Regions from separate parts of the Homo sapiens genome. Here region 2 is linked to region 1. Evidence: fine-mapped expression QTL. A gene starts in region 1. The other region holds a variant in brackets. All regions are shown on one strand. Distances are between the middles of the regions.

Evidence for each region.
Region 2: its variant is fine-mapped to the expression of DENND2B in whole blood (TOPMed, PIP above 0.99).

The regions. Positions count from the first base shown.
Region 1 is chr11:8,801,761-8,818,836 of GRCh38, reverse strand. DENND2B (DENN domain containing 2B) reads left to right here and starts at 8,163. Exons shown (of 20, transcript NM_213618.2): 1 at 8,163-8,320. DENND2B-AS1 (DENND2B antisense RNA 1) reads right to left here. Exons shown (of 5, transcript NR_120590.1): 5 at 8,561-8,760. RefSeq lists enhancers at 12,240-12,739, 12,740-13,241.
Region 2 is chr11:8,901,772-8,915,639 of GRCh38, reverse strand. AKIP1 (A-kinase interacting protein 1) reads right to left here and starts at 4,451. Exons shown (of 6, transcript NM_020642.4): 1 at 4,417-4,451; 2 at 3,969-4,196; 3 at 3,107-3,187; 4 at 710-814. The coding sequence starts at 4,190. It also overlaps a transcript of DENND2B not described here. RefSeq lists enhancers at 4,147-4,236, 4,247-4,316 and a silencer at 4,407-4,686. The variant G/A (reference allele first, on the strand shown) is at 5,154.

The DNA.
Region 1 (17,076 bases):
ATACCCTTTTTAGTTGGATTGATTAGTTGGTTGGTTTTATTAGTTCATTCATTTAAAAATTTATTAATTGTACGTGGTACACAGCCCTAAGCTAGAATTCAGAGTTAAGACATAGTTCTTTCTCTAAAGAATATTACAGCTAGCAGGAGAATTAAGCTGAATGAGCTTTGGTGCAGTCACACAAGGCAGTGGGGCATGGCTGGCATTGGAGTGGCAGCCTGTTCTGAGGAGTACTGGGGGGTAGGGCTAGAGAATCAGTCTAGCCGGGGAGAATGAGGGGAGCTAGGATTGAGGAGGTTGGCACAGTCTGGGCTCACACTTCCTACAGCCTTGCCCAGATCTTACTCTTAGGGGTACTTCTTTCCCAGGCTGAAGGTATTTTCTTGGGTAGATCATAGAAAAGCAGCTTGAGTCCACATTCCTCTTAATACCCTACCTCTTCCCTTTCCCTCCACTTTGCACCTTGCCTCCGCAATCCTGAAGATTTTAATCATGGTAGGTTAAGGTCATTGTTGAACTCAGAGTTCTGAGCTAGCTAAGCTTGGAAAGCCTATTATTATTATTATTATTATTAGAGACAGAGTCTCACTGTGTTGCCCAGGCTGGAGTACGGTGGTGTGATCTCAGCTCACTGCAACCCCCACCTCCCAGGTTTCAACTGATTCTCCCACCTTAGCCTCCTGAGTAGCTGGGATTACAGGCGCCTGCCACCATGCCTGGCTAGTTTGTGTATTTTTAGTAGAGACGGAGTTTTGCCGTGTTGGCCAGGCTGGTCTCAAACTCCTGACCTCAAGTGATCTGCCAGCCTTGGCCTCCCAAAGTGCTGGGATTACAGGTGTGAGCCACCACGCCCGGCCAGAAAGCCTATTTTAGAAGGGTAAAATGGTGCTTTCATGGGGATCTAGGGTATTGCTTCCTTGATCCAGTCTTTCCTGGCTGGAAGCCTATGTTTATGTGGCCCAGTGTTAACATGCTCCGACTTAATAAGGGACAGTGGTCAGGGGCCTGTGGATTTGAGAGATTTCAGAAAATTGGCTTATATATTAACGTTATCACAGAGACTCCAAGAAACTGAAGCAAGCTGTGAGTACCTATGTTGTGAGTATCTGGACATTGAGCTTTATACGGAGGGTTGTGAGCTGAGCGGAGGTGAACTAGGGCTGGATGACTGGCAGACTGAAGGAGAGGGGGCGCAACCTAGCATGAAGGTGTGTGGTAGCTGCTTCACTGCAGGGCTGTGGGGTCTAGAAGAATTATAGACTGAATTCCACACTTCCCTAGTTCAGAGCCTTAAGGTCAGGGGTGGGGTGCTGGTGGTAGGAGAGGCAGGGGGAATTAGGTCAGGAGTAAGGACCTGGGAAAACTTCCTATCATAAAACACTAGGACTTGACCACAGAATGGGTATTTCTCTGCCTTCCTAGGAAGGCTGTGCAAGCAAAGTTTGTGTGGCAGTGGTCAACACTGTGCAGGTCCTGCCAGATGTGGCTTCCAGGTGGAGGGGGCCCAGGATTGCCATCTTGAGGAAGACATTTGTTTTGTTGATCTGAAGGCCCTCATAGCACCCAGGTAGAGAATGCTTGATTTGCAGTAGACAGATTGTCTTCCAAGAGAACTTAGGTATTGTCAGCTGTTCAATGTCTGCTTTGTAAAGGCAACTTTGTCTCAGACTTATGGATAGGGGTGAGTCTGAGCAAGGACCTCAGCAGGAGCCTTAGTCCTCTTCCAGGCCATTTCCTAATTTCCCCATTCTGTAATTTAGCACCTTTCTTCTCTGTCCAGCCCTCCTTAGGCAGGAAGCCTGAGTCTTCCATTTTTTTTCTTCTAAAAAAGGCTACTGTTCATTGGTGATGGACCTCTGTCTGATCCCAAAGCCCCAAGCCCGGGGCTCTGCTGAAAGGAGTCTTTCTGCTGCTTTGGACTTAGAAAGCAGTAGGACTGGGTGACTGCGTAGAATGATGCAGTAGGACAGTCAAGCCGAAGGATGCTTGAACAGCTAGTCCAGCCCTCTCATGTGGAGGAAAAAGCAAAGGCCCCTAAGGGAGACAGGGACTTGCCTAGGATTTTACCATTCCAGAAAGCTGGAAGCCAGGACTGGGCTCCAGCCTGCTAGCTGTCTACTCTTGAATTTTAAAAGCTTCCCTCTTGACCACATTGCCATTCACAGGCAGAAGAGGAAAACTGTAAAGCCCTTAAGGGCTCTTCTATAAATGGCAGCTAGAACCCAGTGTAGGAGAATTGGTGGAGAGGAATATGTTTGATTCCCCCCACCTTTTTTTTTTTTTTTTGAGACACAGTTTTGCTCTGTCACCCAGGCTGTAGTGCAGTGATGCGATGATGTCTCTCTGCAGCCTTAACCTCCCAGGCTCAAGCGATCCTCCCATTTCAGCCTCCCAAGTAACTGAGACCACAAGCGTGTGCCACTATGCCCAGCCAATTTTTTAAAATTATTATTTGTAAAGATAGGGTTTCCTTATGTTGCCCAGGCTAGTCTTGAACTCCTGGGCTCAAGCAATTCTCCCACCCCAGCCTCCCAGAGTGCTGGGATTACAGGTGTGAGCCACTGCACTTGACCTGATCACCCATTAATTTGGTAGAACTGGATGTTTTCAGTGGGAATACCACTGGACCCCAGTCTGGGGGGCATTAGAAACTAGGCTTCCCAGAGGCATTTGAAATTAGACTGCCATTTCTTAGGCATTCTAAGATCCAACCAATAATATTGAAAGAACAGCCCATTTTACTTGAATTTCTTTGATCCCAAAGTAAGGAATGACTTGAAAAGATTTACTCTGTTCCTGTGTTTTCAGGTTCAGAATTTCAGTTGTCTTTAAAGAGACAAGAAAGTACTATAAACCCCTCTAGTGACCTAATCCAAAATCCGATTTACATATATGTATTTTCTTGTACAATGTAGGTCCATCCACTCAAATTCCCTCACCTTAAGAGAGGAAATAGCTGTTTCTGTTTGTTTGTTTGGAGAGTCTTTTCAATGATTCGTTTATCTCACACACACTTATTGCATACATTGAATGAAATACTAAAGTGGATACACCTCGAGGAGCTCAGGTCTGTGGGGGAGACAGGTGTGCAAGTAACAGTGATAAAGTGATATCAACGCTATAGTAAAGGCATCTTTAAACTGCTGTTGATTTGCAGAAGAGACAAACAGATTCTATCAGGAGATTGAAAAATATTTTACAGAGGAGGTGATAAATGAGTTGGACCTTGAAGGCAGTAAGATTTTGTTAGTGGGGGAAGGAGAGGCATTCAGATAAAGGTAACAGCATGAGCCATAGAGGGAGGGAGAGGAAAATGCAGGCAGTGTTCAAAGAACCAGGCAGTGCACTGTGGTTGTGCCTGTAATCGGGTGGTTGGTAGCAGGGGAGGTGTGGGCAAGAGATGAAGCCAGAGGATTTCAGATTTGGGTGGGAGCGTAGGCCAGAAGAGGGAACGTTGGATGTAGTCACACTGCTGTTGGTGTTACTTAGACCTTCATTTTTCCACCAGACTGTAGTGTTCAAAATTCTTTTTAGTAAGAGAACCCTTTTTTTCTGAACTTTTTACAACCATCTCCAAATTATGAAACATAAGACTTTTTTTTTTAGTAAAAATGTATTTTTTTACAAGCACAGTGTCTTGCACCATGGAGGGGAGAGGAGGTGTTTTGTCCTTGGAGCTGCTGGCCTGAGAGAACCTTGTCATCGTGGGAGCTGGGCCATTCCTACACAGTGGTCTGGCAATGACCCGGTGGTGGTGGAGGCCTGTGAGTGGGCACTGGTAATGGGAGCAGCTGTAAAACCCTGGAGGGCAGCCCCAGGAGAGTGACCTTACCAGGAAAGTTCTGGGAAACAAACCACAGGGAGGCTTTACAGGAATTTTTGGTTGTGCCCACAGGCAAGGCACATGAGGAAAAGAAATGTAATTATAGTTTGTAAGTCGATGAAAAGAGGCAATGAGTGACATGAAATAGCTGCTCTAAGTTTCTTCTTCCTGTCGGACAGGAAGAAATGGGGTTTTATGCATTTCATTCAGCAGATATTTATTGAGTGCCAGCTGTGAGCTGGGCCCTGCACAAAGTGCAGGGAATATTGGTGGTTAGCAAAATAGTCAAGGTTCGTATCCTAAGGAACTCTTCTGAGGGAAGACTGAGATTAAGCAGATAACTGTATAAATGCATAATTACACAGCATGGTGAGTGCTCTGAAGGATAAGTGTGGGGAGCCTCATTTAGATTGGAGGATTGTGAAAGTCAAGAGACAGGAGAGTCAAGGTGAGGCAAGGTGAGTAAGAGCTATCCAGGCAAAGACTGCTTGGTAGGGGAGTGTCCCAGCAACGGGAAACAACCTGGAAAAAATATGACACCTCAGGGGAACTAAAAGCAGTTGTATGTGGCTGATGCACAGACAGGGAAGGGCAGGAAGTGTGCTGAAAGAAGGCAGGAGGAGAATCATGCTGGGCCTTGTAGGTCCTGGTAAGAAGTTAGATTTTATCTTAAGTGTAGTGGGAAGTCAATGAAGTGTGTTAAGCAGGAAATGACCTGATCTGGTGTTAAAAAAAAAAAAAAAAAAGGTGATTCAGACAGCTCTAATGACTTTGTGAGGGGAGAGTGGAAGCTGGGGCAATTAGGAGGTTTTTGCAATAATTAAGGTGAGAGATGGGTAGCATCAGAGGTGGAGAAAAGTGGACAGATAAAAGATATATTTTGGAAGTAGAATTGTTTGCAGTTGGGAAATGGGTTGGATGTGGGCAGAAATAAGAAGGGAGAGTTGAGGATGTCTCCCAGGTTTCTGGCACATGTATGCTTGCAGGCCTCTCAGTAGACAGCAGAGAGCTTATATAAGGTTGTCAAATCCTTATCCTTCAGAAGGGTCAGGTAGGATTGGTCTAAATCCAGCCTTGCAGAGGCAGTGGTGGGATTCAGCTGTCCCTGACTCTGCCCAGTTCAAGGAGTGTGTACACAGTAGCATTACCCAAGCAGGGATTCCAGTTCTCTCAGTAATGGGGCCCTTCCTTTGTCCCTTCCCCCAGGACAAGGCCCTAAGGAACCTCCATAACTCCAGCATGCCACTAGGGGGAGCATGGCCCGCATTCTGGGTCTGGTTTGGAGGGCTTCTTAAGTTTGGATTACTTCAGGAACTGACTTGTATCAGTTCTAGTACTCAGTCCTGACCCCTGGCCCCTCATACTGCTTAAAAGAATGCCTGGCATATGGTAGGTGCTCAACAAGTGTTAACTGATGTTACTACTGTATTATTAATATTATCTTATTATAGAAAGGGGTGGGATCACCCCTTCTTTCTCAGGATGGAGACTGGGCAAGTGGAATGTGCATTTTGAGGATCAGGAGGAGAGCAGAGGGATGCCTTTTGGACAAGGAAGAGGCGGAAATTTAGTGATTTGATGATACTGCATTTGCCCTTCTGTCTTGTCTTTCTTTGTCTTTCTTTGTAGACTTGGGATTCTTCAGCTGGGGCTTGGGTGGGGTTGGGGATTTATAGTGGGTGATTAGGTTCACTCCCTTTCAAGCTCTGATTGCTTCACTAAAGCAGTAGTGCCCCCCATTTAGGATTTGTGCCATTCTGTCATTTCCTGTTGGATTTTATAACACTTTCCTACCTTAACTTCTGGTATATATTTACCTTTTAAACTCAAGTCAATCAGAATCTTGTTTTGAGAATGTTGTGATATGCTGGAAATTAATGAAAAAAACCCACTAGATTCTGCATAGGATGTTGCATTAAAGATTCTATCAGGCTGGGTGTGGTAGTACACACCTATAATCCCAGCTACTCAGGAGTCTGAGGTGGGAGGATTGCTTGAGCTCAGGAGTTCAAGACCAGCCTGGGCAACATAATAAGACCTCGTGTCAATAAATAAATAAATAAATAACATCAGGACCTTTTTTTTGGGAGCACTGTTTTTGGGAGCAGCATTGGAAAATATCCTCCTTAAGCCTCAGTGTCCTCATCCTGGGGAGGGTATTAACTGTCCCAGTGTTTTTTGTTTGTTTTTGGTGAGGAGTTGTCAAGAGGAGTAAAGTTCTTAGTTCAGTTCCTGACTTGAGAGTGCTTTCACGGACAGCATCTCTTCCGATGCTCAGTCCCAGCCCTGTCAGTAGGCTCTGTAGGTGGAAAGGGGGAAGTCATGGGACTTGCCCAATGGCACATGGCCCGTTAGTGGTGGAGTCAGGCACTGCCAAGGTCTTCTGACCCCTGGTGCTGTTGCAACCACTGTGCTTAATGTACTCAAGAGACTTGAAAGGCTTGGGGATTGTTTCTAGATTTTATTTCCTGGTTCCATGACCTGGGGCAAGTAATTTTACTTCTGTTGTAGAATTAAAAAAAAAAAATCTGTTAAATTAGTATAATAATGCCAATCCTAACTTTCAGACCTGTCATGTTGAACAGACGAGCCAAGATTTTGAGAGTCGTTTAGAAAAGTGCAAGGTCACATATAGCTGTAGGGTAGGGCTTTTTCTCCGAGCTGTGCATCAGGACGTTTTACATCTTAGAGATGCTGTCTTAAGGTCTTTAGGCTGAAAGGATGGTAGTCAGCCTATCTCGCCACAACTTACAAGGATTCTCCACCTTCCCTTGGGAGCCCAGCGTTATCTCATAACCAGTTATCAAAAAGTTGACAGTTTTTGAAATCAGGTGGCAATATACTTTAGTTGAAAGTGTGCTGGACTAGGGCGAACTTGGCTGATCTCTTAGTTCTTTGACTGCCTAACTGTATAAGTGCAGATCAAATGTTTAATCTCTCTGAGTCTCAGTTTTTCCATCTATAAAATGGTCATAAGGCCAGTATGCTGGCTCACGCCTGTAATCCCAGCACTTTGAGAGGCTGAGGCAGGAGGATTGCGTGAAGCCAGGAGTTCAAAACCAGCCTGGGCAACATAGTGAGACCCTGTCTCTATAAAAATAAAAATTAAAAAAGTAGCCAGGCGTGGTGGTGCATGCCTGTAGTCCCAGCTACTTCAGAGGCTGAGGCAGGAGGGTTGTTTGAGCCCAGGAGTTTGATGATGTAGTGAGCTATGATTGCACCAATGCATTCCAGCTTGGGCAATGGAGCAAGATCCTGTCTCTAAAAGAAATTTAAGAAGAATAATAAATAAACTTGAAAAAATGGTCATAAAAATATCTGTGCAGTGTATTTCAAAAGGTTATGAGGATCAAACAAAATGATACATGTAAAAAGAATGTTACAAAGCAGAAATGTATGCTGGGTAGGGGGGAGAGGAAGGGACAGGATGGGGATGGGGATGGGACTAAACTTAGGGGGTCTGCCGTGTCCCAGGGACTGTGCTCATTTTCTGACAGGAGCAATATTATTACCGACTGTGACAGCAGCTCCCACTAAGCCTGCACCTTAGCTGCAGATCCTTAGCAGGGCAGAGAGACAAGGCTGTATTTGTATCAGGTTTGTCGTCTGGGTTGTGACTCTCGACTTGCCCAGGATTCTTCCTGGTCCTGACCGAGTTGTCTTTGCTCTCCATTTCAGGAAGATGAGAGACTGCTTAGGCGCCACCACTAGTACCATGAGTCCCTGCACTGGTTAAAGCCATCGCCACAACCTGGACAGGCAGCAAGGTAAGCAGAGAGGCCAGTCCAGGCGAGCTCCTGGGATGTGAGTGCATTTCCGCCCCAACTGCTGCCCGGAAAAATCCCAAGTGCACAAACAAGTCAAGGCAGCGCATCAGGGTCCCTCCTACCCGAGCTCCAGGACCCAGAGGAAGCTGGGTCCCCTTCAAGCGCTTCAGCTAGCTCCCTCCCCCCTGGCAGGGATTCTTCCAAGTTATAAAAAATGAGACACTGGAGGGGAAGAAAACAAGTCCACTCACTGTCTTCTCCCTTCTCCCCTCTGAGCTGTTCAAGCAAGTTCCCAGGAGCAGTTCAGAGCCCCTGTTGGACTGGAAGGGAGGTAGGAGGAGTGGAATGCATGCAAAAACCGAGCTGATCAAAAGACAGTGCTGTTTCATGGAAGCCTCCCAGAACTGAGAGAGAGAGAGAGAGAGAGAGAGAGAGAGAGACAGTGAGAAAGAAAGAAAAAGAGAGCGCCCTTGTGCACGCGCTAGGCCAAGAGCGCGCCGCTGTGCGCGCGCCCGCCTAGCGAGGACAGGGTCTCCATGACAACCGGCCTGGCCGGCTAGCAGTGCTCTGCTCACTTGGCTGCGAGGAGCGCCACGAAAGGTCAGAGGAAGGAGCTGTGGGAAGCTCGCAGCAGGTATCGGAGCTTAAGCCAGTGGATTTGGGGGCCCTGGGCTCCCTAGCCGGCTGCGGTGTGAGAATGGAGTGGGCAGGAAAGCAGCGGGACTTTCAGGTAAGGGCAGCTCCGGGCTGGGATCATTTGGCCTCCTTTCCTGGCCCTTCTCTCCGGCTGTTTTCTGGGAGTCAGGCGAGTGTCTGTAGTCTCTGCTCGGGGTTTGGGGCTCAGGAATGATGTCATGCTCCAACAGTTGGATTCTATTAGCTTAAGGAGGAGGGAAACAGCCAATTTTCTTGACTTTGCAAATCTAGCTGATCTCACTCTTGCTGAATCTGAGGTGTTTAGACTTCACTCTAAAAAGCATCATTTTACTTTTATTTAGCACAAAGGCACAGGATATTTTTACAGGAAGAATCTTTTATATGGAAAAATCTGAGTTAACATCACTCCCGTGGTGTTTGTAGTTCTTACAGGGAAACTCCAGTGCCTTTTGAGCCGCTTGTTCGTCCTAGTGAACACTGTCTGTTTTGTCTCTTGGTGCTGCTATGTCTGACCTGTAATGGAAAAAAAAAAAAAAAAAAGGCTAATTAAGCTCAGCCAGGAGCCTGTGGTGAGTTCCAAGTCCCTCTAGAGCATTTATTAGGACAGAGGGACTGTCACAGGGATGCCTGAGCTGGGGTTTTGCACTCTCTCTCTTCCAGGCAGCTTGGTAAGAATCAAGCTGTCCTCCCACATCAAAAGGTCGATCACAGACTTTCCTAAGAGGTGGAGGAGGGGGCTGGCTTGGGGTTGGGGGGCCTGCAAACAGGTTTCTCATCCAGATGTCCCAGAGTGAGCTCTCAGCAGCAGCTGCTAAGAGCTGGGGAACATGAGGCACTGTAGTTGTGCCGGGTGGATTCCTTTGGTTACATTTTGACCAAATCTCAGGGCACGCAGTGTCCACGCTGTGCACTCCTACACTGATTGTCCTAAGTTTTGGTAAAACTTGTTCTGACCTAGAGGAGTGGTACATGGTGAGCTGTGTGGCCTTGGAAAGGAGACCCTCCCAGAAAGGCAGTTTTATAGGTGATAGGGTAGTGGGGTTGTCAGTAATATTATGAGGAGGATGAATGCAGCAAACACTTCCTGCAACGGAGACCCATCAGGGGTTGTGCTTCCACTTGAGCCATGTTATGTCTTAAATTCACTTCTTGGCCTCAGGGAACTTTGCAAATGCCTTTGGTTTCTCTGTGGGATGAGGGAACAGCTGCTGTCCTGGTTCTTCAGTTTTTCTTCTTGAACTTTCTGAACAGAATGTCTTTTGTATTCTGGCAAACAATGAGGGGGCATTCTGATTAACTTCGGATCAGCTTGCCAATGCAAGCACTGGCCATGTCCCCAGTTCCGGCTCCCTAAAATGAGTACATGTATACATCGTGGTTGTGGCCTGAGGGTCCACAAGGGTGAACTCCATGGCCCTGGACCTCAGACGGTCCACTTCTGAAGTTATTCCTCTTGCTACATACACTCCAGGGATCCTTTGCTTAGTTGAAACCTACATTTTGCTGGAGGGATGTGGCATAACACTGAGCCAGTGGCCCCTTCAGTTGGCAGTGTAAATCCAGAACCTCAGCCTTCTTTTCTACTTGTGTGTGTAGTTGGAGCTCTTCAATTTTACCATCCCCACATCTGTGAAGAGGGCTAGCAGAGACCCAGTTTCAGGAGCTGCTGCTCCTTCTGTTGGTATAGCAGAAAGAATAATGGATTTGGGTTGCTAGACTTGAGTCGACGGCTAGATTCTGTTCCCATAGGGCGGCCACGGGCAAGTATCTTAACTAATAGGAGCTTCAGATTCTTACCTGTGAGATGGAGGTAATAAGAACAACTTCACAGGACTGTTGGGAGGAGCCAGTGGGATAACTTCCATGAAAGTAGTTTGAAACAAGTCACGTCCTATCTAACGAACCGTGTTGTGAATTGAAGCTTGAGGAATGACCCAACTCTCTCTGGAAAGTCACTTTGCCTCTCTGTTCTGGTTCTCTCATTTTATAAAGTGCCTTCTTCCTTTCTGCATTTATAAGTAAACATGAGAAAAATCTGAAAAGACTTCTTCAGGATGTTTAAGGAAACAAATGTTGCTTTCCTTGGGTTGGGTCGTTTCATAAGAGTGATGTTTGCCATAAAACTGGAGCCTCATAGACGATCCTGCAGGGAGGAAGCTTTCCTTGGTCACCTGACTCATGTGTTTATATATAGTATAGAGGAGAGGTATTCCAAAAGACCCGTCGCTTTTCCTGTGTCCCACAGCTGCCTGTAGAGTTGTGGCACCATAAACTTTAGCAGCTGGAAAAGAGGCCAGGCCTGGTTCCCTCATCCTGCTGGGTCCTGCTGGGCACACTCTGCAGTGGGCAAAGGGGTCTTTCTCCTTCATTCTGGGTTTAGAAGGCAGGGTTCTAACTGGGAGAAAGTGTTATTGCTCCGAAAGGCTTCTTGGGGGCTGGGCAGGTCTTTCAGGAACTCATAAGGCCACAGCTTATGGGGAAAGAAAAAGAAACAAGGAAGTGGGAATTCCAAGGGCAGAGATTCTTGATATGCCATGGGACTGTGCCAAGGAATGGAAGAGCAGGGGAAGGGAGACTCCAGGCAAGGAGAGTCCCAGGTCTGTCCTCATTGAGTCGAAAGGGCGTATGGCATACTAGAGCGCGTCACCCACAGCCCCAGCTTTACTGTAGGATGGGGAAGACCTGCCAGCCATATCCCGGAGTGGTGTCTGGGAAGAAGCCCTTGAGCAGACCCATAGTAGGCAGATTAAAAAAATGAAACAAAACAAGCAGCTCCCCTTCTAGTTGAGTCATGTCACAACAGCCTCTAAGGCCTGAAGGAGAAGCTGCCCACAGCTTAGATTGGGGCTGCAGCTGTTCCCCGACTCCCATCAGTCCGGCTTCCCAGAGCTGAGTCACAAATTGGATCTGTCTATGTTCCTTAAGGATTAAAAAGTAACATTCCTGTTCTCACTCCCTCTTTCCTCCTTCTACTCCGCTTCCTGTACCTTCTCCCCTTGGGCTCTCTCTCTCTCAAATTAGATATCAGTCACCCCGGGAAGATGAAACTTTGAAATACACTGGAGAACAGGCCAAGGACACCCTTGGTTCTGCTGGTTCAGCCTCTTTCCCTGGAATGAAGGGCGGGGTGTACAGATTCAGGAGGGCAATCCAAGTATCATGGCCCCACTGGTAGCCTAGACCTAAGAGAGGCTGTGCCCCACTCCCCACCGCATCTGATTCTAAGAACTGCATTACGGGAGGTCCACCTGGCACCTCAGGGAGATGGGAGGCTCTGAGGCCTGGGCCTTCTGAAGCACCTCCCTGTGGGGCAGTTGGGACTGAAGGATTGAAGAATACATCTTCCTTCCTGTCACTCCTCTTAGCTGTTAACTGTCATTGCCCTGGAAACGTCCCCATTTCCATCGTTGGGCCTAAGAGAGTCGGCCGAGGCAGCCAAGCCCGGGGAACACATAGTTGAGGCTGGAGGAGGCCTGGCAGCAGCCCTTCCGAGCCCTGGCTTGGCCTTCCTTCTGTGCCTCTGCATGGGCTTGGGAGGAGGGTGTGTTTAGGGCAGGCTGCGAGGAGGGGAAGGGGAAATCTGCAGGCAGATAATTGAGTTCTTTGAGTTGGAGGGACCATGGAAAGTGGAGAAGGGGCCAGGAGGGCATAGAGCGAAAAAAGAAAAAGAAAAAAAAAAAAGACCATCTGGCATAGTCTGCAGAGATTTGTCTTTAAAGCCTATGGGAAAACTTGCATTAGTGTGTGCCTTCTCCTGGGGAGGCAGGGGCTGGGGAGGCTAGGCATTTGTTTCATCCTGGAGGGGAGGTGCTATGTGTGTCTGTCTCAGTAGGTGGGTCGGAGGAACTACTGGGTGCATCTGTCTTAGAGGAATATGCCACGTAATATTGTGCTGATAGAAACACCTGAGCTCTCTATTTCTAGCCATAGGCCCCAGAAAGCTCTCCTGGGTGTGTGTGTGTGTGTGTGTGTGTGTGTGTGTGTTTTGAAGGGAGAGGAGGGTGTTAAATGAGTCTAGATTACCTTATTGAAGAATTTCTCCAAAGACCCCTTCTCTTATTTTTTTGGCTCTGATGTCATGAATGTACTGTTGTTGGGGAGGGTGTTGAAACTATCACTATACTCTTCTCATCTAAAACTGCCTGAATGTTAGATTTCACTGTCCTTATAAAAGAGTGAATTATATGCAGTTAGCGTATGAAGCCTTCTTAACCAAAGCAGACCTATTCCTACAGGCTTGTCACGAAACCACCACAGTTTCTCAAAGCTCCAGACTCTTCCTCTGTGTGACCTGTCATCACCAAAGGGGTTGTGTGTGAGCTGGAGATGGACTGTTGGAAATCACATAGTGGATGGAGGATTATTTGGAACTGGGAAAAAATGAGATAAACTGAGGGTTACGGGAGACAAGATCTGAGGCAGGAGGAAGACTACTGGAAGGAAGCAGGAGTGAGGCACTGGGCAAGGGGCCCTGGGCGGAGGCAGTTCTCAGGAGCAGCAGGTGGTAATCGAGAGAAGGGCTGACCTCGGAGGCCTACACAATTTAGCAGAAGGCCAGACTGCCCCCAGGGAGCTCAGGGTGACAGTGTCGTGCAGGCCCTCAGAAGCACTGGAGGGGGTAGGGGTGGCTGGCATTAGGGTTAACACCTCTGTTTGTTTGTTCTTGGCTCAGAGGTGTCTCTGGTGCCCATCTATGCAGTATTGGTCTGTTCACCCATTTAGTCAGTGAATACGGAGTGTCTGGGCCAAGAGCTGGGGAGGAACGCAGAAGTATCAAGTATGGGCCTTACTCCCATCTATGTCATGTTATAATAGACGTTGTGTTGTAGTTATTTCTTCCCCTCTCTCCCCCACTCTGTCTGTGTGATTAAGAGAGAAGCAGCATAGACCTGCTGCAGTTCTGAGTTTTGATGGTAGGGTTAATGACCATCTCATGCTCTTAGGCTGGGAAAAAGGAGGAGGGTCCAACAGACTGATTTCAAGCACGATTCGAATGAAGGAAGAGAGCCAACTGAAGGACTGGAAGTAGGAGGGTGAGGATTCTAGGCCTGTGTTGAAGCTTCTCTTGACAGTGTCAAAGGATGGTGTATGTGGGAGGGAGTCATAGGAAAGGGGAAATGGGAAAGTTGGAAAAAAACTATCAAGTCAGCTATTTTTAAAACTCTAGTTTTGTTCGAGGAACTGACTTTTGGTGTGCTTGTGACTTGGAACACAGGCTACCTTATGGAGTTCTGACAACTGAGTATTGTAGATGGTTTTAAAATGAACTAGCCTGTGGTGTGTTTGTTCAACTCTCAGTGACTCTTAGGTACTCAGTGAGTGCGTGGTGCTGCCTTAGAGCAATTCTGATGGAACCATTTGCATTTAATATGAGTATCTGACATGCATTGCAGTGCACTGCAGTGATGAACAGCTATAGCTCAGGGGTCTTAGAGGCCTAGCTTTAGAGCCTGACCTTGCTGTGTGACCTTGGGCAGGTTATTTAATCTCTCTGTGCATCAGCCTTCTTTGAGGCATCTGTAGAATGGATGTAATAGTACTTGACTTGATAGAGTTGTGGTAAGGATTAAATGAAATGATACCTGTAAATAGGCCAGTGCCTGGTACATAGTAAATGTCCAATGCTTTCCAGTATATTATTATCAACTTACAGCAGCATTTTGAAGAGAGTGGGCTGGTGTCTCTCAAACAGGTTGATGTTACTACGCTGGGAACAAACCAGATTCTTCTTTTAGAAGTAGCTGCTGGTTGGGCGCAGTGGCTCACGTCTGTAATCCCAGCGCTTTGGGAGGCCGAGGTGGGTGGATCACTTGAGGTCGGTGTTTGAGACCAGCCTGGCCAATATGGTAAAACCCTGTCTCTACTAAAAATACAAAAACTGGCCGGGCATAGTGGTGTGTATCAGTAATCCCAGCTACTCGGGAGGCTGAGGTAGGAGAACAGCTTGAACCTGGGAGGCGGAGGTTGCAGTGAGCTGAGATCGCACCACTGCACTCCAGCCTGGGCGACAGAGCAAGACTTCGTCTCAAAAAAAAAAAAAAAGAAGTAGCTGCTATTTTGCATCTCGTTCATCTTTCTGTCAAGACCCCAGGTAGTCTGGTCTGGGGTCTGTGCAGTCCTGGGTGTGTAATAATACAAGATTTCCTAATAACACAGGATTTCCTCCCCACCTCTCAAAGCTGCTTGTGTTCAGTTCCTGCCACTTGACAGACAGCTCCCCATGTCTTATGGCTGCTGCATCAGGCAGAATGATCAAAGAAAGGGCACAGGGAGCCATGGACAAGGTAGGGAGAGAAAGACAATTGCTTTGGAAAGTCACCAGCAGCCAAGGAGGACTGCCCTTTCAGACCTGGCCTACACGTTAGGAAGGTACTTGAGAGTGTCCTTTAAGAGGAAGGAGTAGGGGCCAATGAGATTTTGAGGACACGGCAGCCGCCCACACTGGAGAGGCCAGAAGTCCTGAGTCTGAGGTAGTCCTTGTCAACCCAGCTTCACAGGTTCAGCTCTTTCCTCCTGCTGTGGGATGCTCACTCCTCACAGACGGGGAGACCCGTCCATCCAGAACTGCTTCTCGCCTGCCCCTTTCCTGCTGGCCAGCCTAGGTGGAGCCCCTGAGGTCTTTCTCAGTGTGGTATTGGAGGCCCTTCACAAGCTGCTCTCAGTGCTCCAGACCCCGGCCTCTGCCTCAGCCCTCCTTACCCCTGCTTCCACAAATACTGCCCTTGTACCCTTCCAGATGCAGCTTAGAGCATAGAATAGGCTTTGCAGCCAGCTCTGAGGGTCCATAGTCTGGTTTTTCCTCTATCTGTGGACCTCTGGTGAGTTCATCTCTGTAAACCTCTGTTTTCATCTGTAAGTTGGGAGTGATAATATTACCCACCTCAAAGGGTTATTGTAAGGTTTCAATGTGTTAATTTATGTAAGGCACTCGACTTAGTTGTAGACACAAATATGCTCTCAATAAATGTTAGCTGCTGCTGTTGTTAATAATCCATCCTTCCTGTGAATTTCTCTGCCTACATATAGCGGTAGAAAGTCCCAGCCAGGTAGTCAGCAGGTCTGGATGTTAGTTCTGGTTCTGTCTCTAATTTGCTGGGTGATCTTGGGGAAGTAACTTGACTTCTCTAGGGTTCAGTCTCCTCTTCCAGAAAGTAGAAGGCATGGATTCAGTGTTCTCATTGACATCCTGACTTGACATTTTTTTTGAGACAGAGTCTCGCTCGGTCGCCCAGGCTGGAGTGCAGTGGCATGATCTTGGCTCACTGCAGCCTCCACCTCCCGGGTTCTAGCGATTCTCCTGCCTCAGCCTCCCCAGTAGCTGGGATTACAGATGTGCGCCACCACACCTGGCTAATTTTTGTATTTTTAGTAGAGACGGGGTTTCACCATGTTGGCCAGGCTGGTGGCCAACTCCTGCCCTCAAGTGATCTGCTTGCCTTGGCCTTCCAAAGTGCTGGGAGTACAGATGTGAGCCACCACACCTGGCCCTGACTTGACTTTTCAAATGTGTATATCTTGTGTTTTCAACTAGATTCCTTGAAGTTGTATGAAATCAAGTATAATATTTTATACTTTTTATTTCCCCAAATGGCTAACATATATAGTTGGTGCTTAAAAAATATTTGAGTAACTTTTCTTTAACCCCATCAACCAGATTCTAGGAAGCATTTTGACTTGGTTCTCAGAACTCGGAGGCTGGAAGCTTGTTCTCCAATGCGTAGGGCAGTACAAGGAGGCCTCAGCCTTTAGTAAGTAAGAAGGTAGGTTTCTCTTGGTGCCCTGGGAAAATTTTGGTTAACAGATGTTTGGGGTACTTATTTGTTTGGCTCTGTAGCCTTAGACCAGGTCTTTGAATAAATATTTCCATCACTGTTTCCTTTTCTCAGTGGCGAAAAATGCCAGTGTTTTCTGAGCAATCCCCTCTCCTTTAGAGTTTAGGGTGAGCCAGTTAGTGCCCAGACGCAAATCTGTGTCTTAGGGGAAGAGCCATCCAATAGGAGAGTAATGTTTAGAGCCTGGGCTCTGGGGTCAGATTGGGTTCAAATTCTGCCTCTGCCACCTAATAGCTCTGTAACCTTGGACAAGTTACTTGTCCGTGCCCTGGTTCCTCTTCCGTAAAATTGAGGCAGTGGTAGCATTATCTCATGGGGCTGTAACAAAGCCTAAATGCCAAATGTAAAGTGCCTAGAATAGTACTTCCTGCCTCCTTGCTGAACAAAATGTTTGCAGTTATTGTTTTGTTTATTATTCTCTTGTAAACCAAGTAGTGTTTAGTTCCTTTTTTTTTTTTCCAGACAGAGTCTCACTGTCGCCCAGGCTGGAGTGCAGTGGCACGATCTCGGCTCACTGCAACTTCCATCTCCTGGGTTCAAGTGATTCTCCTGCCTCAGCCTTCCAAGTAGCTGGGACTACAGGTGTGTACCACCACACCCAGCTAATTTTTGTATTTTTAGTATCGATGGGGTTTCGCCATATTAGCCACGCTGGTCTTGAACTCCTGATCTCAGGTGATACACCTGCCTAGGCCTCCCAAAGTGCTGGGATTATAGGTGTGAGCCACTGCACCCGGCCCTTTTTTTTTTTTTTTTTTTTTTCCCCAAGAGAGGGCCTTACTGTGTCACACAGGCTAGAGTGCAGTGGTGCGATATTGGCTCACTGCAACTTCTGCCTCCCTGGCTCAAGCGATCCTCCCACCTCAGCCTCTGGAGTAACAAATGTGCACCACACCTGGCTGATTTTTATAATTTTTTTTATAGAGATGGGGTTTCTTCATGTTGCCCAGGCTGGTCTCGAACTGAGCTCAAGTGATCCGCCCACCTCGGCTTTCCA
Region 2 (13,868 bases), 98 kb before region 1:
ACCAAAGACATGACAGTTATCACCTTATAGTAAAAAATGTAATTATTAAAAATCTTTTCCCCCAGCCTGGGCAACATAGCAAAACCCCATCTCTATTAAAAACATTAAAAATTAGCTGGGTGTGGTGGCATGTGCCTGTAGTCCCAGCTACTTGGGAGGTTCAGGTGGGAGGATCACCTGCCCAGGAAGTCAAGGCTGCAGTAAGCCATGATTGCTCCACTGCACTCTAGCCTGGGTGACAGAGTAAGACCCTGTCTCAAAAAAAAAAAAAAAAAAAAAAAGAAAAAAAAAATCCTATCCCTAGATGTAGAAGAGGATATTTAGAGCTCTTTTAAAAAAAAATTAGAGAAAGGGTCTATGTTGCCCAGGATAGAATGCAGGGGATAGTCACAGGGGCGATCATTGCATACACCACATTCCAGGCTTGGAAGCTCTTTTCTTTAAACCTGCTGGAGAATCCCATGGCCCAGGACTGCAGGTTCAACTAAAGATCCTACAGTGGCATCAATCTTATATTTTTGACAACCTCCTATTTCATGTTCATTGCTGTAAGTTCTCTAAGGCTATGAATTTACACATTTCTGTTAAGCACTGTAATGCCAAGTCACACGGGCATCCAGTGACACAAAGTCTAGCAGGGGCTCTTGAATATAGGGTGTCATATCTTGGTAGACTGAAGGCATGGTGCAGGACAGTTGAGTACACTTACCTGACCATTCCCTATGTCCAAGCACATGTGCAGCTTCGACTCGCCTCTGTGATAACGATAGACATGGGTTGCCCCTCCTTCCTCTGGCACAGATGAATAATATTTCTAGAGACGTAATGTCAAAGATGTTAGCTAACCAAATTGTCTTGTCAAATTTTCAAAAAACCCTGATATTTGGGCAAAGTGCAGTTAAGGAGGGAGGCAAGAGAGCAAAGGTGAATTACCTGCCCTCTTGACAGGCCTCTGAAGTCATGCAACAAACCTTAGCCCACCCAAAGTGGCTGCAGAGAAAGAAATGCATTTGGCATCCCCGTGCTGCCACCTGCTGCCTCCATAGGGCAAGAACGCTGGCTAACTAAAGGTGGGCAGGACCATGCTCTCTGCCAGGTTAAACAAATTTCACATCTTTGCCCCCATGTCCAATGCACATATCCTTTCATTTCCTCCCCTAAAAAATGTGGATGAACGGTTCCATGTTTATTGTCTAAGTCTCAGACCAGGACACGGGAAGAGAGGGGTACATTTTCCTGAGATTTAGAAACACAGCAGGAAATGAAACAAACCCAAGAGCTGCTCTGCAGCCCTTTTCTCTGTGCTTCCTGCGCGTGGGGGAGTGGAGGGAGAAGTCTCTAATTTAAGAAGAATCTTCCGAAAGATCGGAAAACAGTTACATTTCTCTTGTCTGCTTCCTTCCTCCCCCTCAAAGTTAGCCTTAGACTTGCCCTTGATAATGACTAATGACATCACAGCCCTGCTTGTTTTGAACAGGGTAGGCACACTGTCTAAAAAACATGTGACCAGAAGAACGAGAAGCTGGGGAAAGCACTTGAGGACACAGACCTAAAGATGTGTTTTAGTGGCTGCTTCAAACTGTGGAGACAAACCCAGTACACAATTCTTAATTCTATCTCTAGAAAGCCAAGAGGTTCTGAGGCTCCATTTCATAACAGAGACTTGAACTGAAGCATGAACTGAAAACAAAAATGAAGAACAGCAATTTGCTAAACCTCAAACCAAAGACAAATATTATTCCTTTTGCTGAACCATGAACCAAGGGTTTAATCACTTTACAGTAGAGTTGAGGCTATTGATTTTTGTAAAACCACTGAACAACACAAATAAGATAAAAATATTCCCTGAAGTATTCCTCTTTGGTTGGAATCCTATTCTTGGAGTCAGGGATTCTTATAAAAGATGTAGAAAGATTAGAGTTTTTTGAGATCTTAACATATGAAACTGAAAAGCAGGGCAGAAACAAGGTATTCTCTTCCATCTCCTTTGTGGATCAGCCTCCTTAAAACCATGTAGGACTCACCAAGTGTTAAGACTGCATGAGGCCAGAGCCTGCTGTAATTCCTAGAAGACAGTGCCTTCCATGCAGGTAATTTCCTTGAATGTTTTCTGGCCTGCCCTCAACATTCCCTAAGTATCGAAAGATGACTTGGCTGGGTATGGTGGCTCAAGCCTGTAATCCCAGCACTTTGGGAGGCCAAGATGCGCGGATCCCTCGAGGTCAGGCGTTCCAGAGCAGCCTGGCCAACATGGTGAAGCCCTGTCTCTACTAAAAATACAAAAATTAGCCAGGCATGGTGGCATGTGCCTGTAGTCCCAGCTACTCGGGAGGCTGAGGCAGGAGAATCGCTTGAACCAGGAGGCCAGGAGGTAGGGGTTGCAGTGAGCCGAGACTGAGCCACTGCACACCAGCCTGGGTGATGGAGTGAGACTCTGTCTCAATTAAAAAAAAAAAAAAAAGGTCGGGCACGGTGGCTCACACCTGTAATCCCAGCACTTTGGGAGGCTGAGGCGGGCGGATCACGAGGTCAGGAGATGGAGACCATCCTGGGTAACACAGTGAAACCCCGTCTCTACTAAAAATACAAAAAAAAAAATTAGCTGGGCGTGGTGGTGGGCGCCTGTAGTCCCAGCTACTAGGGAGGCTGAGGCAGGAGAATGGTGTGAACCCAGGAGGGAGAGCTTGCAGTGAGCCGAGATCACACCACTGCACTCCAGCCTGTGCCACAGAGCAAGCCTCTGTCTCAAAAAAAAAAAAAAAAAAAAAGTTAAAAAAAACCCCTAATATTTAACTTATTTGCTATGAAATTCGGCAAATAAGCTATTTTCCCCCCACTAGACTGAAAGATCACTGAGGGCAGAAGACCTTTTCTGACTTTTCATTGCTATATTGTCAGCTACAGGGTTAGGCATTCAATAAACATTTATTGGGTGAATTCTAACTTGGATTTACCCCCTGGTTTAAGTCCTTGACTGATTACAATCTGACCGTGAAGGCTGGGCAGGAGAAACAGGTAGTGTCCAGATTCTCCGTAAATTCCAGAAAGATCCAAATGTGGTCCATCAGCAGGTGATGGGGCATAGTTTTGGTTCACACCAACTTACCCCACACTGACTTGAAGTATAGTCCATGAATTCAGCCATTGTTCTGAAGGAAGCACTAAGGGTTGGGGGTCTCTCTTCTCTCTATTTGAATAAATGGCACGTCACAGGTTAGCTCTAGGATTCCCTACTGGAGAATGAAGCCATTTTGGAAATAGTCTCCTTTTTACTTTTGGAAAGGCTCTGCAAGTTTATGTCAGAAAGAACGATGTTATTGAGAAAGAATTCCAACTCTAAAAGATAGACATGCAATTTATCCAGGATCTAAGAGACAGGCTTGCAGGCTTTCCTCTACTATCAGATGATAGCTGTAAGATTTTTTTTTTTTTTTTTTTTTTGAGACGGAGGTTTCGCTCTTGTTGCCCAGGCTGGAGTGCAATGGCGCGATCTCGGCTCACCGCGACCTCCGCCTCCCGGGTTCAAGCGATTCTCCTGCCTCAGCCTCCCTAGTACCTGGGATTACAGACATGCGCCACCACGCCCGGCTAATTTTGTATTTTTAGTAGAGACGGGATTTCTCCATGTTGGTCAGGCTGCTTTCGAACTCCCGACCTCAGGTGATCCGCCCGCCTCGGCCTCCCAAAGTGCTGGGATTGCAGGCATGAGCCACCGCGCCCGGCTAATTTTTTTTTTTTTTTTTAAGTAACCAACCAGGGCTGAACACTACCGTTATTCTACAGCTACCCAACAAGAATCTGTCAAATGTAAAGCGTTTTGAAAGGACTTTTCCATTCATTGTTCTGATCCTTTCCAGCTTCCGCTAAGGGAAGGTTTCCTCAGCTGCTTCTGCGCTGCGCACCCCTGGCTCCCAGCGGGCTACCGCGGCGCGAAGGACTGGGGCGGCCCCCGGCACAGCGACCCTCACCTCTCCCGGGAGAACGCGCTGCGGGCCGGCTGCCGGCTGTTTCTCTAGGTGGGGCGCCTCCCGGGCAAGGACCCCCATGCAGCCTTTGGGACGCTCCAGGGCATGCCAGTCCACCGCCCTCCTCTTGGCCCTCTCCAGCACTTCTAGAGCCAGCCTTGCTGAACGCTGCAGGGAACGTCGGTCCACCCCATTCAGCGCTGCGGCCGCCAAACAGTTGTCCATGGCTCCCTGAGTGGGCACACAACGTACAAACGCCGGCGGGTCAGCTGGGCCGCGGCGACCCTGCTCCAAATCCGGGTGGGAGCCCCAGCCTCGACCTCCCTGGAGACCACCGCTCCTGGTCCGCCCCCAACGCACACTCCAGCGGGAGCCCAGCCAGGACTAGGCCTAGCGCGCCCGCCCCTTCCATTTTCATCTACCCCTTCCGCTACTTAGGGAGCCCCCTCACCCGGCTCACTCGTCAAGGCGCATGCGCGCAACGCTATTCTAGGAAGAGGGACCAGGCCTAGCGCTCCCGGCGGCGCCGGCGCAGCTGGGCCATTGGCGGAAGGCGGGAGAGGCGGGAGAGGCGGGAGAAGTGGGGGAGGCGGGGCGGCTGGGCGGCCAAACACGCCTTCTGCGTCCCAGCCTTGGCGTCTGCGCGCGAGTTGCCTGGTTAACTGCTGAGCGCTGGAGGCGGGGCGCCGGGCGCTGGGGGCCGGGGGTCGGGGGTCGGGGGCCGGGGGTCGGGGGTCGGGGGCTGGGGGCTGAGGACTGAGTCGAGCCAGCAGCCCAGGGCATCTGTCCACGCTGTCAGAGGAGCCTCTGGGCGTGGGGCTGGCCCTTAGAGGGCTACTGCGCTGCTTAACTTGGTGGGTATAAAGGCAGGTCTCCTGTTGAGCTAAAAAATTATGGGGTACCAGCTAGGTAGGCAACATAGCGAGAACCCGTGTAGACACACACACACACACACACACACACACTAGCCAGGAGTGGTTATGGGGTACCAGCTAGGTAGGCAACATAGCGACAACCCGTGTCCACACACACACACACACACTAGCCAGGAGTGGTTATGGGGTACCAGCTAGGTAGGCAACATAGCGACAACCCGTGTCCACACACACACACAGTAGGAGGAGTGGTGGCGCGCATCTGTAGTCCCAGGTACTCGGGAGGGTCGAGGTGGGAGGATCGCTTGAACCC[G/A]GGAAGCGGAGGTTGCAGTGAGACGAGATCGCGCCACTGCACTCCAGCCTGGGCGACAGAGGAAGACTTCGTCTCAAAACAAAAACATCATGGGGAATAAGGCAAGTGCCTCCCGCGCCTCTTTCTGCTTGGTCTACATTTTGGGGTGTCGCTACTCTTGTTTGAGGAGGTGATTAGGCCAAACTGTGTGGCTGCCAAGGTGGCCTTTGGAGAAGGGAACAGCTCGGGATTGAGGCGAGACGGAGGCGGGGCTGTCTGCAGATGTTCCTGGCCCCCGGGGCAGGGGGCGCCTGAGAAGTTGTAGGGTCTCTCATAATCCCTCAGCGCAGCTCTCTCTCCCCTCCAGTGGGAAGTACGGATTCACATATTTTTGGAGACCTGTTCTCTTGGGGTCTGACTCCATCTTTTAGGAAGACTGCACCATGTTTAAGTAAGGAACTGTGAATGCTTACTTAAACCATGTTTAAGTAAGGACCTGTCACTCCACTCCGCTGGTTATTTGGTAGGAGATACAGCCCAGGCTCTCACTGCTAATTAGTGACTCAGCCGCACCACCCAGCGCAAAGCAAAGCGCCGATGCTTAGGAAGGTCCACTTTGAGGGACACGCTCAGTGGGGGTCACTTTAAGGAACACAAATAAATCCTCCTTTAAGTCTCCTCTGTGGTTCATGAAAAAGGAGAGAAACTCCATCCTCACCTAGTCTCAACAGATGGCTTGATGAGCAATTATCAGGTACCAGGTGAGTAGTAGCCGACCAATACGACCTCCTTCTATGCTACTTAACTTTTGCAAATTTCCTGCTTTCCCCTTATAAAAAAGAATAACAGTGAGTGAAACCCTACATTATTCTTGAGATGATTTTTTTTTCATTTTATTGGTATTCCAAAACATTTCCTTCAATAAGGGTTTATCAAGTGCCTCCTTTAGAACATAGTGGTTGTACGTGCATGGGGTCCTGTATATCCACTCGGGAGAGCTGGTTTGAATTCTGGCTCTGCCATCTTTTTTTTTCCATTTCTTCTCCTTCTCCTTCTCCTTCTCCTTCTTCCTCCTCCTCCTCCTTCCTCTTCCTCTTCTTCCTCTTCTTCCTTCTTCCTTCTTCTTCTTTTTTGTTTAATAAAGAAACGAGGGTATCACCCTGTCAGCCAGGCTGAAGTGCAGTGGCACGATCTCGGCTCACTGCAGCCTCGACCTCCTGGGCTCAAGCGATCCTCTTCTTCAGCCACCACGCCCTGCAAATTTTTTAAATGTTTCGTAGAGACAGGGTCTCCCTATGTTGCCCAGGCTCTCTGCCACTTTTTTGCTCTGTGGTTCTGGGCAAACATATTACTTCTTTGAGCCTCACTTTTCCTCATCTCTATATCTGGGGATTCCAATAGTACTAACTTCTTTAGACTGAGCTTCTTGAGGGAAGGGACTGTATCTGTAGTGTTTAGAGTTTAAGGTGCATCTAGTATTTACTATTTTGTCTGTCACAGTAAGGACTAAAAATAGCCCTTGAATGTGTGAATTGGGTTGCCATTAGGATTCTGTGAGATAATTCCTGTAAAATGCTTAGCACAGTGCCCGGCAAAGATAAGTGCTCCATAGACTTAGCTAGCATTAGTATGTGCCAGGCACTGCCCTAGGAGTTGTGGAGAACAGAATGTGGATCAGACTAAAGGAGAATAAAAAAGAGGAAAGAATGCACATAAAATCTATAATACCAAGAACAAAATATTCGGACATGCCATAAGATTGACACAGATAAAATGCTATCAAGCTTAGGAGACTATGTTCAGCTGGGAGGATCAAGAAAGGTTTTGCAGAGAATGTAGTTTTCAAGCTAGGCCTGATGGCCTAGGAATCAGTGAGAGAAGAGGTAGATAAGATACCCGTTAACTGCTTTTACAATAAGTGTGGTTGGAGTGGGACAGAATTTGGTCCTCTTTATTTTTTATGGATTTCAAGGTTTTAGCACATTCCTCATAGGGTTATTGTGAATATCAAGTAAGTTAATATCTATAAAGTGCATTTATAGTACTTGGTACATAGTAGGTGCTCAATAAATATTAGCTAGTATTATTATCTTAAGCTTCAGCCTGGTCTCCCAAAATATGCTCTCACTTACCCAGTATCATAGCCACACCTCATCTCATTTGTCTCTCTTCCCCATTCTATTTTAGTCATTCCAGTTGAGGCACTACTTTCTTTTTGTCAGGTCAGCTCTTTGAAACTTTTCCCAGTGGTTCCCAGTTGCCACCTCTGTTGCCATAGCCTTAAAAAAATTTTTTGTGTGTACTTTTCCAATCTAATTTAAATTATGTGTAGTTATGGTTTCTTCTCTCCCAATAGCCTTTCAATTCCTTGAAGGCAGAAACTGTTCCTTATTTGTCCCTAAACATTCCAGGACCTGTTAAGTAGCGGGTGTTCAGTAGCCATTTGTTGAAATTACTCTGATTTAATTTTTAAGTTAAATAGACTTCTGTTAGCCCACATAAAGAGGTGGCTTTGTGGTGGCTCACACCTGTAATCCCAGAAGTTCAGGAGGTTGAGGTGGAAGGATTACTTGAGGCCAGGAGTTTGACAGCAGCCTGGGCAACATAGTGAGACCCCTGTCTCTATTTTTTAAAAAATTAAAAAACTAGCCTGGCATGGTGGCTCATACCTGTAGTCCTAGCTACTCGGGAGGTTGAGATGGGAGGATTGCTTGAGTCCAGGATGTTGAGGCTGCAGTGAGCTATGATCGTGCCACTGCCCTCCAGCCGGGGCAACAGAGTAAGAACCTATCTTAAGAAAAAAAAGAGTTGGCTTTTCTATTAAAAAAACACCTACCTACATGAACTTTAATGAATGTAATGAATATTCAATTGTAACTACATTTTCTCAGAATTTAACATTTAGAAATTTATGGGAAAGAAGATGCTTGAAATGAAACTGAAACCAAAAGACTCTAAATTAAATCTTTGCATTTGTTTTTATTTTTCTATTTGTAAATATATTTGTAAATATATTTTTATATGTGCATATTTATAATTTTAAAGATTCATCCTGTAAACCACAGATTGAGAGACTTGAGAGATTCCTTTTTATCTTTTTTAAGATTGGCTGGGAATAATGATAGAACATGACCTACCATCAGGCCCCTTGTGGATCAAATATAGCCCACGCCAAATGAAAGCCACTGGTGAGAACTGAAAATGGAATTGTAAATGGAGAGAGGGCAACTAATTAGGAATGTGCCTGGTCAACAGGGAAATAGACTGTCAGTATTGACAGAAAAATAAACTATTGATATGAGTTTTTAATGACTTCTATCTTCACAAGGGTAAATTCACTAATGAGAACAGATGAAAGTTAGTTGTCAGGGTTCTATGTTTTGGAGGAGATGCGTTGGAAGAGGTCTTTAATTGTGAAATGGGGAAAGAGACTGGTGCTGTATTTGGGACTTTTTGAGGAGAAAAAACAAGTCCAGTGAAGAGCAATGTAAATTCCTTTTCTTTATGTGAAGGGGGCCAAAAAGGGTTAAAAACCCAGGATGCAAAAGTGGGTACTGTGCCAGAGTTAGACAGTGATTTATACTGTACATACCAGAAACTGTATAAATCATTTTATTTGACAAATGGTATTGTTATTTCTCCAGCAGACTTAAGAGCTTTGGAATCATCACAGCTTTGTAAGGTAGTATTACAGACTGAGTCATTAGATCATTCATTTTGCCTGATTACATCATCTCACTGGGTTATTGGGGGAATGAAAGAAACTCATTATCAAAATTGTCATCTTGATGATGTAGATTAAAGAAAATGAATCAAACTTCTGAGAATTAACTTTCACAATCTGTTTAAAATTGACTGGGAGTTAAAAAAATTGGTTGCAGAGCAGGAATGATTGAAATCTTGTCATTTTTAAAAGTCAGAGATCAAAGGAATAGTATTTGGAAGATATTTAATATAAACAGTTGAAATTTATGTAGAGTTTTTTTTTTTTTTTTTTTGAAGACTTCTTGGCTGGGCGCGGTGGCTCACACCTGTAATCCCAGCACTTTGGGAGGCTGAGATGGGCAGATCACGAGGCCAGGAGATTGAGACCATCCTGGCTAACACGGTGAAACCCCATCTCTATTAAAAATACAAAAAATTAGCTGGGCGTGGTGGCAGGAGCCTGTAGTCCCAGGGGAGGCTGAGGCAGGAGAACGGCGTGAACCTGAGAGGCAGAGCTTGCAGTGAGCCAAGGTCGCGCCACTGCACCCCAGCCTGGGTGACAGAGCGAGACTCCATCTCAAAAAAAAAAAAAAAAAAGAAAAAAAAGACTTCTTTATTGAGGTATAATGTACATATGATAAAATTTACCTGTCTTAAGTGTATATTTCAGTATTTTTTGTAAATTTACAGAGTTGTCAACATCACCAAAGTGCAGTTTTGGAACACTGTCATTACCTGAGAAAAATCCCTAGTGTATACCATATGCAGTCAGTTCTCAGCTCCTGCCTCTGGTCCTAGGTGACCAGTCTTCTGCTTGCTGTCTTATGAATTCGCCTTTTCTGGACAATTCATATAGATGGAATCTGATAATATGTGACCTTTTTTTGCCTGGCTTCTTTTAATTAGCATAATGTTTTTGAGGCTCACACATGTCGTAGCATGTATCAATACTTCATTCTTTTTTATGACTGAATACTATCCCGTTATATGAATATATTACATTTTGTTTATCCATTTACTGGTTGATGGTCATCTGAAATGTTTCTGGTTTGGGGCTATTTTGACTGATAATGCATAGTAAGACTTTGTGTGGACACATGTTTTCATTTCTCTTGGGAATACAGACTTGAGCCGCCGCACCCACACCAGATGTATGATTCATAAGTATTTTCTCCCAGGCTGTGTCATGTATTTCATTTTCTTAGTGGTGTAATTTGAAGTACTAACATTTAAAGTTTTGATGAACTCCAACTTATTAATTTTTTTCCTTTATAAATTGTGCTTTTGGTGTTATATCTAAGAAATCTTTGCCTAACCTAAGGTCATGAAAATTTTTTTTGAAGATTTTTTCTATGTTTCCTCCTAATAGTTGTATATTTTAGTTTTTACATTTAACTCTATGCCATTTTGCATTAATTTTTATGTGCATTATGAGGTAAGGGTCTAGATTCATTTCTTTTCATGCAGATGTTCAATTTTCTCAGTATCATTTGTATAAAAGACTATCCTTTTCTCATTAAATTCCCTTGGCAACTTTGTCAAAAATCAATTCACCATAAATGTAAGAGTTAGCTTTTAGACTTTAAATTATGTTCTATTGATCTATATGTCTGTCCTTATGCCATATTATACTGTATTGATTATTGTAGTTTTGTAGTAAGTTTGGAAATTGGGAAGTATATCAACTATGTTCTTCATTTTCAAAATTATTTTTATATTCTAGTACAGTCATTATTTCCATAAAATTTAAATTCAGTTTGTCAACTTCTGTGTAACAACTGTTGATGTTTTGATAGAGATTATATTGAATTCACAGATTAATTGAGGAAGAATTGCAATCTTAACAATATTGGGTTTTTGAATTTATGAACATGGAATGTCTGTCCATTTATTTCAGTTTTCTTTATTTTTTTTACTAATATTGTGTAGTGATTAGTGTACATATTGCACTTCTTTTAACAAATTTATTAAGTATTTTTATGCTGTTGTGAATGAAATTGTTTTCTCAATTTCATTTTCAGATGAAATTATTACTAGTGTATAGAAATATAGTTGACTTTTTCATATTGATATTGTATCCTGTAACCTTGTTAAACTCATTTACTTGTTCTAAGAATTTTTTTGTGGATTCTTTAGGATTTTCTGTATACTGGATCAGATCTTCTGTGAATAAAGAAAGGCTAACTTTTTTCTTTTCAATCAGGACTTCTTTTTCTTGCCTAATCGCACTGGCTTGAACCTGTAGTACAATGTTGAATAGAAGTGGCAAGGGGAACATCTTTGCCTTGTTCCCAATTTTAGAGGCAGAACATTCAGCCTTTTACCATTAAGTATGATATTTGTTTTTTTGTAGATACTCTTTATTAGGTTAAGGAAGTTCTCATCTATCTTTAAAAATTATTTTTAATTAGCTTCTTCAGGTTGAGAAGAAGTTTCCTTCTATTCCTGGTTTAGTGAAAGTTTTTATCATGAATGATTTTTGAAGTTTTTCAGACGTTTTTTGTATGTCCATTGATGTGATCATGTGGTTTTTATTTTTTATTCTATTAACATGTGTTGAATGAATTGATTTTTGGATATTAAGCCAATCTTTCGTTGTTGAATTTGGTTTGCTAGTATTTTACTGAGGATTTTTCTGTGTATATTCATGAGGGATATTGATCTCTAGTTTTCTTGTTTCTGGTCTTTGTGTCTTTTGGTATTAGGATAATATTGGCCTTATAGAATGATTTAGGAATGTTCTATTTCTTGGAAGAGTGTGTAGAATTGGTATTATTCTTAAGCATTTGATTAAAACCATCTGGGCCTGGGCTTTACTTTGTGGGAAGATTTTTAATTACTAATTCAACTTTTTTCCTTGTTTTAGGTCTACTTATATTTTCTATTCCTTCTTTTTTTTTTTTTTTTTTTTTTGAGACAAGGTCTCACTCCTGTTGCCAAGGCTGGAGTGCCGTGGCATAATCACAGCTCACTACAGCCTCAACTCCCTGGGCTCAGGTGATTCTCCCACCTTAGCCACTCGAGTAGCTGGGACTACAGGCATGCATCACCACTAGGCCCACCTAATTTTTTTGGTACTTTTTGTAGTAGAGATGTGGTTTTGCCATGTTGCCCAGGCTGGTCTTGAACTCCTGAACTCAAGTGATCTTCTATTCCATCTTGAGTCAGTTTCAATACTTGGTGTCTAAGAATTTGCCCAGTCACTTAAGTTGTCTAATTTGTTGACAAAAAGCTATTGGTAATATTCCCTCACAATCTTTTTTATTTCTTTAAGATCTGATTATGGTAATCTGTGCCTTCTCTCTCTTGCTTTTTTTTTTTTTTTTTTAACATCTTGGTCAGTCTAGTTAAAGTTTTGTCAACTTGTAATATCCTTTTTTTTTCTTTTGAGACAGTCTCACTCTGTCACCCAGGCTGGAATGCAGTAGTGCAATCTCAGCTCACTACAATCTCCGCCTCCCAGGTTCAAGTGATTGATTCTTCTGCCTAATCCACCCAAGTAACAGGGATTACAGGTGCATGCCACCACACCCGACTAATTTTTGTATATTTAGTAGAGACAGGGTTTCACCATGTTGGCCTATGCTGGAGTGAAACTCTGTCTCAAAAAATAAATAAATAAATAAAACTTTAAAAAATACAGATGGCCAGGTGTGGTGGCTCATGCCTGTAATCCCAGCACTTTGGGAAGCCAAGGTGGGTGGATCATGAGGTCAAGAGATCGAGACCATCCTGTCCAACATGGTGAAGCCCCATCTCTACTAAAAATACAAAAATTAGCTGGGTGTGGTGGCGCATGCCTGTAGTCTCAGCTACTCAGGAGGCTGAGGCAGGAGAATTGCTTGAACCTGGGAGGTGGAGGTTGCAGTGAGCCGAGATTGCACCACTGTGATCAAATGTAAATTCAGCCATCTCGATAATAATGTTAAATGTGAATGGTCTCAACAGCCCATTCTATAAGCAGAGATTGTCAGACTGGCTTAGATCCAACTGTCTGTCTACAAGAAACACAACTTATAGTCAAACACACAAATAAGTTGAAAGTTAAAGAAAAAGATATACCATGTAAACTATAAGCATAATATTGCTGGAGTAAAGAAACAGAATCCTGCAGATACCTTGATTGTAGTCCAGTGAAAACCATTTCAGACATCTGACTTCCAGAACCTTAAGATAATAAACTTGTGTTGCTTTAAGCGACTCCCCTTGCCAAAAAAAGATTGCTGAAGTAAATGTATTAACATCAGACAAAATAGACTTGAAGACAAGAAATATCACTAGACAAAGTGGGGCATATCAGAATCACAAAAATGACAAATCATTACATCTGGAAGATATAGCACTTGCAAATGTACATGACCCTAACAACACAGCCTCAAAATACCAAAGCAAAAACTGACAAAATTCAAGCAAGAAATAGACAATTCAACAGTGGTAGTTGGGGACTTCAACACCTCACTCTTTTTTTTTTTTTTTTGAGATGGAGTCTCACTCTGTCACCTACACTGGAGTGCAGTGGTGTGATCTCAGCTCACTGCAGCCTCTGCCTCCTGGGTTCAAGTGATTCTCCTACCTCAGCCTCCTGAGTAGCTGGGATTACAGGCGCGTGCCACCACACCCGGCTACTTTTTGTATTTTTAATAGAGACAGGGTTTCACCGTGTTGGTCAGGCTGGTCTTGAACTCCTGACCTCATGATTCGCCCACCTCAGCCTCCCAAAATGCTGGGATTACAGGCATGAGCCACCGTGCCCAGCCCAATCCTCAGTCTTAATAACTGATAGAACAAACAGAAAATCAGCAAAGATATAGAAGGCTAAACGATACTGTCAGCCACCTTGACACCTATAGGAAACTCCATCCAACAATAGCACAATACACATTCTTGTCAAATACTCCCAGAACATTCTCCAAAACAGACCATTATTAGGTCATAAAACAAGTCTCAATGAATTTAAAAGGACTGAAATCATACCAGGTATGTTCTCTACCCACAATAGAATTAAATTAGAAATCAACAATAGACAATTTG